Homo sapiens: one gene and its partner. The protein of the gene in region 1 interacts with the protein of each later gene in a biochemical or structural test. Each region holds a gene or a part of one and is shown on either strand. Other genes may lie near its edges.

Region 1 (7,848 bases):
GCTCATACTTTGAATTCCCCAACATGCCATGCTATTGCTTGAGTTGCTTCTGCTTCTTCTCCTTAGAATGCCCTCTCTCCAACTACCTGATAAATGTCAGCTTCAGTTTTCAACACTTAGCTCAGAATCATCTCCTTCATGAAGCCTTTCCTAACATCTCTCAGGCAGAACTGACCTTTTCCTTCTCCCTGTCTACACTGTACCCTACACATATATAGATCATAACCTTTAACTGCAATTATTTTTATATATGTTTATTTCCTACTAAGCAGAGAATTCCCTGTAGGCCCTCTCTTATTCATCTTTATAACCCCAGTCCTATACATGATAGTATGTAACAGGCATTCAATTAAATTTTCCTTAATAAACAATGGGCTCCCCTCCCCCTCTACTGACTACTCTCACATTGGACCTATAAGCCCAAGTTCCATTTGAGGAAACTAATTTTGCTGGCCGTAGCCCTTGGTCCCACCTTATTAGTTCTAACTGCAGTCCCATTAAGTCCATCCTGATCCTTTAGCTCTAGCCTCTACTTCTACCAGCTGAGTCCTCTGGTTTGTTTCCCACCTTCCCATTCAAATTCATGTCCACTGTCCAGCTGCTCCGAGTCTGAAGGTGTCTCCAATTCGTCTATCTCCAGGTCAGAACTGCCATCAGGAGAGGAAGGTGCAGACTGGGTGGGTGAAGCTCCATCATTTCCAGGCCCCTTAGTCAGACTCAGCCGCAACTCTGGGGCAGAAAGACGCTTGCGCATGGGGCGCTGGCCACACAGGGCTAAAGTGCTGGGGGTACCTGCAGCTGGAGAAAGGGGGAAAAAGAGAACCAAGATGGGTGTGTGTGTTGGAGAGCCGAGAGGGCTAGAATTCCTGTATGTGAAAGTGATAATATGGGGTGAATGCTGAAGAAGGACTCACGCAGGGGAGATTTGGGAAAAGGGGGAAATGGAACTGTAAAAGGATAGAGGTGGCATAGCCCTTTACTGGACTAGAATCAAGAACTTGAGGCCTGGTTTCTACTTGACCTACCTGCCTGTGAATCTCCTTTAGGGTCTTCAGGATCTTCAGAAGTGCCAGCCTCCTCAGGAAGCAATCTAGAGGGGAAGAGATTAAAAGGCGGCAGACATATACACCAAAGGCATCAAGCCAGGACTCAATATATAGGTTCTCTCTCCCCACCATGATTTTATCACCTATGCTGCTTTTTTTTTTAATTGTTTTTTTGAGACAGGGTCTCACTCTGTTGCCCAGGCTGGAATGCAGTGGCACAATCACAGCTCACTGCAGCCTCTACCTCCAGGGTTCAAGCGGTCCTCCCACCTCAGCCTCCCGAGTAGCTGGGCCTACAGGTGTGCACCACCACACTTGGCTAAATTTTGTATTTTTGTAGAGATGGGGTTATGCCATGTTGCCCAGAGTAGTCTTGAACTTCTGAGCTCAAGTGATCCACCTGCCTCGGCCTCCCAAAGTGCTGGGATTACAGGCATCAGCCACCACGCCCGGCCTCTGTTTTCTTTTTCCCATTTTTTTCCTTCAAGTCCTAATTCACCATCCCTGTGTCCATTTGCTTTTTTTTTTTTTTTTTTTTTTTTTTTTTGAGACAGAGTTTCACTCTTGTTGCCCAAGCTCGGGTGTAATGGCACAATCTCAGCTCACTACAACCTCTGCCTCCCAGGTTCAAGTGATTCTCCTGCCTCAGCCTCCCGAGTAGCTGGGATTACAGGCATGTGCCACCACACCTGGCTAATTTTGTATTTTTAGTAGAGACGGGATTTCACCGTGTTGGTCAGGCTGGTCTCAAACTCCTGACCTCAGGTGATCCACCCGCCTCGGCCACCCAAAGTGCTGGGATTACAGCCATGAGCCGCCGCGCCATCCCCTCCGTCCATTCGTGACCACCCCTCCCTTCTCCCAGCCACCCTCACACGTCCTCACCTAGGGAATTCTTCATCCTGCCATTCCTCCTTCAGCTCCAACTCCCCATGTCTCAGGGCTGCTCCTAGTTCTGGTGCTTCTGCAATCTCCCTGACCCTAAGACAGCCCCCAAGAAGAAAAGATCAAGGGAACTGAATAGTAGGTAAGAATAATTGAAATGAAGAACAGTAATTGAGATACAGAGCAGAGGATAGGCCTTCAAAAGGACTCAGATCTCTTGCCTCCTATACAGATGCTTCTCTTACCTTCACCACTTGCTAGAAGCAGATTACCTGCTGTTAAGTTTGGGAGCAGACGAAAGATGGAATGTAAAGTTAATCATATTTACCTCTGTAGCAGTTGCTCCACCTACAAAGTTGGGGTGAGAGATGTCCCACATTACAAGTGGCTGGAACCCAGCTAGACCCACCCAGCTATCATTGAGCAAAGTCGGGAAGACGGTACCTAGTTAGGCCTGCCTTTCCTCCACCGAGCTGGGGAGTGGCTAAGGGAAAACATGGCATAAGTGGAGGGGTGGAGGAAGAAGGTAAGGAGAAAGATTTGCCAGAACGAGAACCTGGACCTAAACTCGGTTCTGGTTCAGCTTTCCTGATGGCCATTCTGGAGGGTGAGGGTTAGAAAATAAAAGAACACAGGCAGATTTATCAGGTACAACATATTACAGAAACTTCCTTTATTTTTAAACCAGGGAATTATCCTGGAATCCTGTTCCCCAGTTCCATACCATACTGACATTTCCTACCTAAAACCACCCTCATCTCTTCTCTGCAAACTCTCTTACAGTCTTGTCTCCTTGAGGAACCCGAGATTTGACCCAGTAAGAGCTGGGTGGTGGGGAAGTCTCTCCGGACTGTTTATTCACTGTTACCAATCAAGTGAGCCAAGATCTTACTTACCCAACATCTGTCTTTTTTCCTGCCTCTTGTATAGTTCCCATCTTCACAAGTCTTCCTGCCTCCTTCTTTAAACACCTAGGAGTTGTTGGGGAGCTGGTTGTCCCAGCCCCCAACACTTCCTTACCTCTTTTCTGTCTCAGCTGTTGTAGCTCTTGCCTCCAAGGAGGGAGGTGTGGAAGGGAGGTAACCTCATCTTCAAAACAGGTTTTGCCACTCCTCTCCCCAGGAGCAGGTTTGCCCAAAAGAAAAACCCTGCCTCCTGTGAGGGGGCGGGTTTTGGGGAGGAGAGTGCATTTTCTAGTGGGGGCCAGTCTCGGTTGAGTCTAGGAAGGCAATTTGTTCTCCTTTCCAGACTCCATATATCCCTCTCAAAGTTGCTCTTTACACAAATAAGCAAAAAAACCAGTAGAAACCGTTGTGTTTCTGGCCGGGCGTGGTGGCTCACACCTGTAATCCCAACACTTTGGGAGGCCAAGGCAGGCGGATCACCTGAGGTCGGGAGTTTGAGACCAGCCTGACCAATGTGGAGAAACCCCATCTCTACTAAAAATCCAAAAAAAAAAAAAAAAAAAAAAAAAAAAAAAAATTATCTGGGCGTGGTGACACATGCCTATAATCCCAGCTACTTGGGAGGCTGAGGCAGGAGAATCGCTTGAACCTGGGAGGCAGAGGTTGTAGTGGGCTGAGATTGTGCCATTGCACTCCAGCCAGGGCAAAAAGAGCAAAACTCCATCTCAAAAAAAAAAAAAAAAAGAAAAAGAAACCATTGTGTGTGTTTCTAGGACTGTTATCTTGGATCTACTTTTCAAGCATAAGGAAAACTGGGGAAACGGAAGTATGTTATAAGGAGGTTTCTGGGAGAATAAACAAGTTGAACGGGAGGCTGAGGATGAGGGGAGACAGAAGCCTGTTGCTCCTTATTCCCAAAAAGAGTCAACAGAAAGAAGACATTAAGTATAGTAGGAAGAAGGGGGATCAATTTTGAGGAGACTGAAACAACTATCACAGAGAAAGGCCTGAATACACTTGTAAAAAAAGACAGTAAGACCCCCAAACAGGAAAAAATTATTTAATAGTATAACAAAATGCAAAATAAAGTACCCAAGTTACAAAACATAAATTCCTTTGGTTCATGATCACACCACTATTTTTACCTTCCACATAGCTACAGACATCACACCCTCAAAGTGAAGTCAAACTGTCCCCCTCATACTGAAGATGTCATGCCAAAACCATCACATACCCCACTGTTCAGTGAAACTGTTGGCAACTTACATGGAACAGAGCTGTGGGGTAGGAAAAAGGGGAAAGGGTTGCGTTAAAAAAAATGGGGAGACTCTACACATGCAGAACAAGTTAGTGGGAGGGAGTGCTCTGCTGGGTCAACACGCCATGAACCACACCCCTATTCGTGCTACATGAGGCTGAGTCCTTGCTACAACCACACAGAAATACAGACAATCAAGTGAACCTGAGCACCCCCAGGGATAACAGAAGAAAAATACAGAGAAGCAGAGGAGAGAAAGAATGGCAGCAAGAGGCAGATCACAGAATACCAGGGAACACCTAGTCCAAACCCTGTTTTACAGATGGGGAAAGTGAGACCTGGAGTAGTGAAGTGTCTTGCCAAAATACATAGTTTATGGGAGCATTAGAACTCCATGCTTCCTTTTAATGTGAGCAAGGAAAAAAAGAGATTGACAAGAAATTGATAGGCCTGCTAAGGCAGGAGACAGACCCAGGCCTCTCATTCCAGTTCTGTTGTCTTTTTGGAAGAGTGCCTATGAGGTCATTAAGGCCTTTCTGGGTGTTTTCTTGATTCTCAAGAGTCAGGGTTCTGGGTGGCTCTGGGACAGAGGGATCCAAAGAAACAGCCAGGCCACCTGATCAGGACAGAAGACAATGGCCTCTAATCTGTTCCCAAACTAGATCTGAAACAGTCACAATAAGCTAAGAATAGAAATTCAGCCATCTCTGAATCAAACACCATCACCTAAATGGTGGCAGAAAGAAAAGTCACCGAGCTGATAATCTGCTGTAGGCTGAAAACTGGAATAAATTTCCAAAGCGCACTCTCTTTTCTCTCTAGCTTGAGGCAGGTATTCAATAAATACTTGAATGAACAAGTGAATAAATGAATACATGGAGACCATCGATGAATGTTCAGTTCCATGACAGATACTGGTTCTGTTCAAGATCCATGCCGAGGACACTTTTGGGGTCTAAATTCTTTTTGTCCCACTGTGCTGGGACTGCAGATATGTCACATCGTGCCCCTGGCAAATAAAATAGAGAGAGGTGCAGATTTAAATAATAAAATGTGTCTGATTGGTAGAGATTAGGGGGAAAAGGTGGAAAACCATTCTTAAAGCAGCTGCTTTCTTTCACTTTTTTTCTCCTCTCAGTTTTATGAGAACAGTATACCAGATCCTGGAGCAATGAAGACAGAATTGCTGAATCTCCAAACATCTCAAAACATGCATTTGAAGTGAGTCAGGTAGCCTCACCCACTACCTCCTCGCCTCTCAACAGTCACTTCTTGGACAGGGAGGCTGTGGTAGACTGTGACAGTGAGATCTGACTGCACTTCTCGAAGACGGCCTCAGCAGAGAGTTTAGGCAGCCCCTGATCTAGAGGGCACTCATCCACCAAGCTGTTCATGGGCGTCGGGGGCAGCGGAGGGTCCTCCTCATCTTGACTCAGGCCAGAAATCAGGGAGTTACTTGCCCTGTCCAATTCCTTGTCCACTTGCTCCCTGGACACATCTGCTGTCTCAGGCTGTCCTGAAGGGATCTTCATGGAGTCAAAATATGCTGACAGGGCTTCCTGGAGCAGGGGCAGAAGTTTCTTTCGAGAGACCTGGGTGTTGCCTTGAAGATAGGCATGGAGGTTAGGGTGGGTACTTGAGGCAGGGGTCAGCTTCAGGGGTGGAGAGTGGGAGCGTTCCAGGACTTCACAGATCTAAAGAGGAGACAATAACAGGGAAATGATACACAACTTGCTGTAGCAAAGTGCTGGGCTTCTAAGTGAGAGGCTTCCTCTATAGAAGAGGAAGCTTTTAAAAAGTAAGTCGGCCGGGCGGGGTGCGGTGGCTCACGCTTGCAATCCCAGCACTTTGGGAGGCCGAGGCGGGTGGATCATGAGGTCAGGAGATTGAGACCATCCTGGCTAACACAGTGAAACCCCGTCTCTACTAAAAATACAAAAAATTAGCCGGGCATGGTGGCGGGTGCCTGTAGTCCCAGCTACTCGGGAGGCTGAGGCAGGAGAATGGCGTGAACCCAGGAGGCGGAGCTTGCAGTGAGCGGAGATCGCGCCACTGCACTCCAGCCTGGGCGACAGAGCAACACTGCATCTCAAAAAAAAAAAAAAAAAGTAAGTCAGCCGGGCGCGGTGGCTCACGCCTGTAATCCCAGCACTTTGGGAGGCTAAAGGGGGCCGATCACCTGAGGTCGGGAGTTTGAGACCAGCCTGACCATCATGGAGAAACCCCATCTCTACTAAAAATACAAAATTAGCCAGGCATGATGGCGCATGCCTGTAATCCCAGCTACTTGGGAGGCTGAGGCAGGAGAATCACTTGAACCCAGGAGACAGAAGTTGCAGTGAGCCAAGATGGTGCCACTGCACTCCAGCCTGGGCAACAAGAGCGAAACTCCGTCTCAAAAAAAAAAAAAAGTAAGTTATCCTTGAGGCCGGGCACAGTGGCTCACGCCTGTAATCCCAGCACTTTGGGAGGCCAAGGTGGGCGGATCACCTGAGGTCAGGAATTCGAGAACAGCCTTGTCAACATGCTGAAACCCCATCTCTACGAAAAATACAAAAATTAGCCAGACATGGTGGTTCACACCTGTAATCCCAGCTACTTGGGAGGCTGAGATAGGAGAATCATTTGAACCTGGGAGGCGGAGGTTGCAGTGAGCCGAGATCTCACCATTGCACTCCAGCCTGGGCAATAAAGCAAGACAAGAAAAAAAGTAAGTTGTCCAGAGTTCGGTTTTATTGTTTGCAACAGAAGGAACACTAATATACACAGTATTTTTTTTTTTTTTTGAGACAGAGTCTTGCTCTGTCGCCCAGGCTGGAGTGCAGTGGTGCAATCTCAGTTCAGTACAACCTCTGCCTCCCCGGTTCAAGTGAATCTCCTGCCTCAGCCTCCCATGTAGCTGGGACTACAGGCATGTGTCACCCAGCCTGGCTAATGTTTGTATTTTTAGTGGAGACGGGGTTACACCATGTTAGCCAGGCTGGTCTCGAACTCCTGCCCTCAGGTCATCCGCTCTCGCCTCGGCCTCCCAAAGTGCTAGGATTACAGGTGTGAGCCACCAAGCCTGGCCCACAGTATTTTATTTTAGTATTTTGTATTTTTTATTTAATAGACTAGGGATGGGGTCTTGCTATGTTGCCCAGGCTGGTCTCCAAATCCTGGTCTCAAGCAATCCTCCTGCTTCAGCCTCCGAAAGTGCTGGGATTCATACACAGTGTTTTATTTATTTTATTTTACTTTAATTTTTTTTTTTTTGAAATGGATTCTTGCTCTGTTACCCAGGCTGGAGTACAGTGGCACGATCTTAGCTCACTGCAACCTTCGCCTCCCAGATTCAAGCAATTCTCTTGCTTCAGCCTCCTGAGTAGCTGGGATTACAGGCACCTGCCATCATGCCCAGCTAATTTTTGTATTTTTAGTAGAGACGGGGTTTCGCCATATTGGCCAGGCTGGTCTCAAACTCCTGAGCTCAGGTGATCTGCCCAGCTCAGCCTCCCAAAGTTCTGGGATTACAGGCATGAGCTACCATACCCAGCCATACACAGTATTTTAAAAACAGAGGAAACAGTTTAGATTGTATATTTCATTTTATTATTAAAGTAACTAAAGCGAAGTAAGATGGTTGTGAGTAAAATCATGCAGATGATGGCAGTTAAACCAGAACCGAGGAACCCCAGCTTCTAATCTAGTGTCGTTTCCAAGTGTATAAATGTGCTCAAGAACTTGAACTAGGATGGAACTAGAATTTATCTAG
Region 2 (5,805 bases), on another chromosome or scaffold:
CCTGAAGTCACCTAACAAAGTGGATGGCAGTGAGTGGCTCTGGGTGGGATCTTTCTGTCCTCTGGCTACCCTCTGCCCAACAAGAAGGCTGGGGAAGGTGGGGCTGAGAGAAAGGTCTAGGCCTAGAAGACCTCGGACTCCTCCCAACTCCAACTCCTCCTCCCCCTCTTCCGTGGTCGGCTCACCTCCAGCACCCCACGTGGTGGCCCTAGGTACAACGGATTCCGGCGGGCAGAGCGCCTTAGATCCCGAGTCTGCAGCCCAGGGCAGAGTGCCAACTTCTCCTCATCCCTTCGTACGCCATAGAATGGAAAGACACTGGGGCTCCTCTGTTAGGAGCGTAGGAGGGACAGGCTGGACAAAAGGGCTCCCGAACAGCAGGTTCGGAGGAGAGCAACCCGGCCCTGACCCCCGCCCCCAACACCGTTCCCGACCTCGCTCCCCAATATCCCGGCTCTGCACCAATTCCTCCCGCAAGCCAAGGAACCCCGAGGCACTCCTAGTCTCTAAACCGTTTATTTCTCCCCACCAGAAGGTTGGGGTGGGCGGGCCTAGAACACAGCGTGCGGCGGGTTCCCGGGTGGAGCCAGCGCAGACAGCGTGGGTCCCTGCGGCTCTTAGGCGAAGGTGGAGTTGTTCCAGCCCACATTGGCCGCGTTCATGTCGTAATAGTTGATGTAGACCCTGCGGGGGGAGGAGGCCGGACTCAGCGGGTGGCTCAGTCCCGGGCCTGGCCGCGCGCCGCCGCCCCTCCCCCGCCCCTCCGCGACTCCGCGTACCTGTCCGGGCTGATGCGCAGGCGCTCGGCCAGCAGGCCGCACAGCAGCTTGCTGTAGGAGCGGTTCTGCGCGCCGCCGATCTTGCCGATGCTGTGCAGGCTGCAGAGCGCGCACGGCTCGCTGGAGCCGCCGAAGGCCATGAGCTGGTCCGGGACCACGTGCACCGCGATGTACTGCGAGGAAAGGGCGCGGTCAGCCCGCCCCAGCGACCTCGTCGGGCCCCGAACGTCCACTTCGGGCCCGAGCCACCGTCCTCCCCCCGCCCCGCCCCCCAGCTCCGTTCAGGAGTCGCCTCCCCAGCTCCCAGCGCGGAACCCCTCGTCCGGTGGGCACCCCCCTCTTCCTGTCCCCTCCCGGCAAACCTGGGGGGGCTTGCCGGTGGCCTGCGCCAGCTGCTGGGTGAGCTCGGAGAGGAACCCGTCCGGCACGGAGGCGCGGGGCACGTTGGTGTTTACGATGAACATCGGCATGATGGCAGAAGGACCAGGAGACCCGCGCAGAGGCACAGACGCACGCGCCGCGGCCGCCGCTGAGCTACGTGCCTGACTTCTCGGACACCACTGTGGTCCCGCCTTTTGTGACGCCACCGCCGGCGCCAGGCCCCGCCCCCGCGAGGCTGCGGCTCCGCCCCGAGTGGGGAAGTCACCGCCTGCCTCGGCTCGACCCCCGCAGGGCAGGACCCTGGGCGACTCCGCCCGTTCCTCCAGCAACCGCCGCTAAGCCCGGCGCACCGCTCCAACCTGTTCTCCACTTGGCGGCTAGAAATCGGCCTGTTCCGGCCTCGCCTCGGGTCTTTCTTAGTCCTTTCACTAAGTCACCGATGTTAGTCGCCAGGAGGCGCTGTGCCGGGGGTGGGGATGCGGCGGTGAACCCGGAAGATGGCCCCTTACCCTTCCAGAGATGAAGCCCAGTTCATTCCACTGCACGCACTGAGCCCCTGTACCTCCTGTCTTTGGGCCACATGTCCTCAAGGGCTCCAGTCCCGCATGCGTGAGCTTGTGTGTTTGAGATGGGGCGGGGTAGTCATCGCGGCAGGTGAGAGGGGAGCTGCCCCTGCGAATCACCATCCAGGGAACTTCCCTGAACCCCTGCTCTTTAAAGAGGATAGGATGCTGGGAGGCACCGAAGGGAAGGAGGCGAGGTCCAGAGCAGGTTCAGTGGTTCAAACGTGCTCAGCTCCCCTTCTCTGGGCCTCTGGGCAACTTCAGCTCCTCAGGGAAGCCACACCCTAGTCAGGTCCACCGTGTATGGCCTCTCATAGAGCCCTTGGTGAATTTCTTAAATGTCTTTTCCACTAATGGTAAACTCGGGGACCATCTAGCAGGTGCCAGGCATACAAGAGACATTGACTAATACTGCTGAATGAATGAATGAATGAATGGGTGAAAGAAGATAAGCCATGACATAGCAGGAAGAGGACAAGGCAGCAACTGGATCACAGGCCAGGTCCTCAGAGATTTCCAGGGAGGTCCTGTCCTTGGTCTCTGATAGGTGCAATCCATATACCAGTCTCAGTGAAGGCCATGTGATATAGGAAGGACACCCATGCCTGTGGGACCCTCGTGGCACCAGCCAGCCTCCAGCTGGGAGGCCCCATGGCCCATTTATACAAATAGCCTATGGGTATTGGTTCCTGCAGCTGGGCCCCAGACTCTTTCCCTCCTGGTGTCACACCTTCTCTTACCTGTGCCCAGGGCTCCCTAACTGATGGCACTCCATACCATGTCTCCAGCCAGGGGCACTCCCCTAAGTCCCAGGCGCTGACAGCAGCTGACTGAGTGTCCACTGCTCTGTAAAGTCCAAATGTATGACTTGTCCTCCTACACCTCATCACCTGCCAGTAAAATATGCTTCCTTTCACTATCCCTTTATTCCCACTTCTCTCCATTCCCTGAACTACCGCCTAGTCTACACTACCTGCATCCCCTTTGGCCTGGACCACTGTGACTTCCCTATGGTGGACTGCTGCTCCTCAAGGGAGGAGTCTGTTTCCAGCCCCAGGCAGCAGAGTTAGCCCCGACTCCCTGTGCCCTATGAAAGCTGAGCAGAATTACATAAGTCACTCCAGGCAGAAGACTGAAGAGCCAGGGCCTGGTTGACCTGTGCCCTGTGAACCTGAATGACAAGGTGCAGCCTCGCCAGCAAGCACATGAGCTGCCCCTGGAGGTGAGCCCCTGCCAATCTCAGGTTGTTACCATAACAAAGGGTTGCCTTACCTGGCCAGTGACGGAGCAGGAGCATTGCCATCTTGAACAAACACCACCATTCTAAGTTCCCCCTTAATTAAAAGCCGCCTAAATCCAGCCCGAAAATATCAGCCTAATAGCTAATGTCAGCATAACCAGAAACATTCCAACCCTAAGATAAACCCTTCTCTGACCAGAAACATGCCAACCCGGAGACAGCCTCCCTTCTGACCAGAGACATTCCATCCCCGCAATAAACTTTCCCTCACACAGAAACATTCAGAACCTATGATAAGAACCCCCTCCAAAACCCTTAAATATCCTTAGTTTGTAAGAGAGTGTGGCTCTGACCTAACTTGGCCAGAAGCCCCTCTCAAGTTTGTTTTCCAAAATAAACCTGTCCTTGTTGACTGTCGAGCCACCCTTGGTGTTTCTTTCCTCTTTAATTCTTATAGCCAGGACAGCCTCTGAGCCACTTGTCATCTCCTTGTACCCTCCCCAGCTGTTTCCAGTGGCAGTCAGCCTCATCCTTCTAGAAGGGTACCCAAAGAAGTGATATGATTTGCCTCTTACTAGCATGGACATTTGGCTCACTTTCCCCATCTGTAATTTGGGGATGACAATAGTGTTCACCTGACATAGAGGTGTTATGAGCACCAAGTGGCCTAAATGCCAATGACAGTCTCCTCTGATACTAGGGGTAGTACTGTCACAAGGCCCTGGGGTAACCCGGTCCCTGTGAGCCTCCGCCAACCCTCCCTGGTTCTCTGAGTTATGGCGCACTGTCCTTCAGTACCATGGCTCCTGGCTCCAGGGTTGGGGGTTGGTTCTGAAATCCAGTTTGCCCACATTTTCCCTCATCTGACTCCAACTCATCCTTCAGTTCTTGGCTCAGCCTTAGTTCCTTGGGAAAGCCCCCGGAGCACCTGGCTTGGTCCATTCCCACACGTGCCCAGTACCTGTCCTGTCCTTCGAGGCTATCTCCATATTTCTGAGTTAAGACTGCATGTCTAGGCGGTAAACTCCATCCCAGTGGGGACAGTCTCTTTTTGGGCATTGCTGTATGCATACCTCCTGACCCCTTACCTCCGTGGTAGGCAGATGACCCCCTGCCCACTAAAGAATAGCAGGGGGAGGACAAGCACTAATCCCTGGAACCTACAAGTATGCCATGTTACCTGGCAAAAAGCACTTCACAGATGCAATTAGGATTATGCATCTGTGCATAATAGGGAGATTAGCATGGAGCATCTGGGTACACCCAATCTAATCACATGAACTCTTAAAAGCAGATAATTTTCTCCAGCTAGAGTGCCAGATTCCAAGCAAGAGAAACACTCGATGTCCATTACCGGCTTTGAAGATGAAGGGGACCAGAGACCTCATGGTACAACCACAAGGAACTGAATTCTGCTCACAACCAGATTGAACTTGGAAGTGGATTTTTCCCTTGTCCCTTCAGATACCTTGACTTTGGCCATGCGAGTCCTTACACAGAAGACCTAGTCATGTCACGCCGGACTACTGACCCACAGAAACTGTGAGATAATAAATGCGTGTTGTTTGAAGCTGCTAAAAATTTGTGTTGATTTATTATAAGAGCAAAAAAAAAATAATACACCTTGGGACCCATAGGGACACAATAATTATCCGCTAACCATGGACAAATGCGCTAGGAGGCATTGGCAGGCATGGCTGCTGACTCCCTCTTCCTCCTCATGGCAGCATCCCAGATCTGTTCGTTAGAAGGTTCACTGCCCCAGAGTTCCTGCCACCCAGGTGTGGCCACCTCATCTCCCACCCCATCCCAGCACATCCAGCTGGAGGCACAACTCACCTCAGCTTCCTCACCCCTAGGCCTCTGAGGAAGCATTTTCATGGTCTGATTCCAAAGACAGCGGTGTGTGTGTGTGTGTGTGTGTCCATGTGTGTGCGCGTGCACGTGTGTCCACATGAGTGCTCACATGCACTATGAGCCTATGAAGCTAGAGTAGCTGAGAAGTCACCATCTAGCCCTGGAGTGTGCACCCAGACAGGAGCCTGGGCTCCCCGGGCAGAGTCATCTCTCTCCAGGTGTTTGATTCTCTCTAATCTTCAATGATTCCCTGCTACCTGCAGAATGAACCAGAGAATGGGGGCAGAACACGACCCCTGAAGAGCGCTGGCTCAAGCTGAGCTCCACTGCTAATCCACAGGGTCACTCTGGACCCCTCGGGTGGCCTAAAGGCCTCCTCAATAAAATGGAGATCAAGGAGATCAGGAAGCACACAGACTCTAGACTACACTTCCCATGAGCACTCTGAATGATCAGCACCAGCGCGCCACGGACCTCAGGTACCAGGCGAGGTCCCAGACGCAGCGTGTGCAGTGATCAAGGTCTGGGGTCCATGGTCACCAGGTCTACTCCTGGCCATTCCAGTTAGCTGTGTGACCCTGGACAAGCCACCGGCTTTTACTCAGTCTCTCATATGTACAACAGGGGTAATAAAAGTACTAATTTCATGGGGTCCTTTCCAGGATTAAAGGAGCTAACACTTGGAAGATACTCAGAATGGTCCTGATACATAGAAAGCCCTCCATAGATGTTATCCCTGAACATTGTTGTCACTGGGAGACTGTTTTGCAAGGTAAGGACCACCGCCATCCTCACAACCCTGGGCACAGCCTGAGGACAAGGACTGAGGCGGAAGCCTCTGGATGTAGTGGACCCTAGGTGGATATGTGTAAACTGAAGGGAAAAATGATTCAGCTGAGGCACAGAGTGATCTGGGTCCCAACAAGAGGGAACCAGAGACTCAGAGGGTCCAAGAAAGGAGAGGATGAGAACAAATACAAGAGAA

Evidence for each region.
Region 2: the proteins of BNIPL (region 1) and MIF form a complex in vitro, tested with the Homo sapiens proteins (one study listed by BioGRID).

Annotation. Positions count from the first base shown.
Region 1 is NC_000001.11:151,031,746-151,039,593, reverse strand, and holds the start of BNIPL (bcl-2/adenovirus E1B 19 kDa-interacting protein 2-like protein), read right to left. Parts: upstream 3,009-7,848; 5' UTR 2,869-3,008; coding exon 2,828-2,868; intron 2,280-2,827; exon of another isoform or gene 2,028-2,279; coding exon 1,932-2,027; intron 1,849-1,931; exon of another isoform or gene 1,091-1,848; coding exon 1,026-1,090; intron 799-1,025; coding exon 568-798; intron 1-567. Other genes in the region: exopolyphosphatase PRUNE1, read right to left, coding at 5,360-5,788. UniProt on the Homo sapiens protein: May be a bridge molecule between BCL2 and ARHGAP1/CDC42 in promoting cell death.
Region 2 is NC_000022.11:23,889,919-23,895,723, reverse strand, and holds MIF (macrophage migration inhibitory factor), read right to left. Parts: upstream 1,342-5,805; 5' UTR 1,250-1,341; coding exon 1,142-1,249; exon of another isoform or gene 953-1,141; coding exon 780-952; exon of another isoform or gene 685-779; coding exon 618-684; 3' UTR 501-617; downstream 1-500.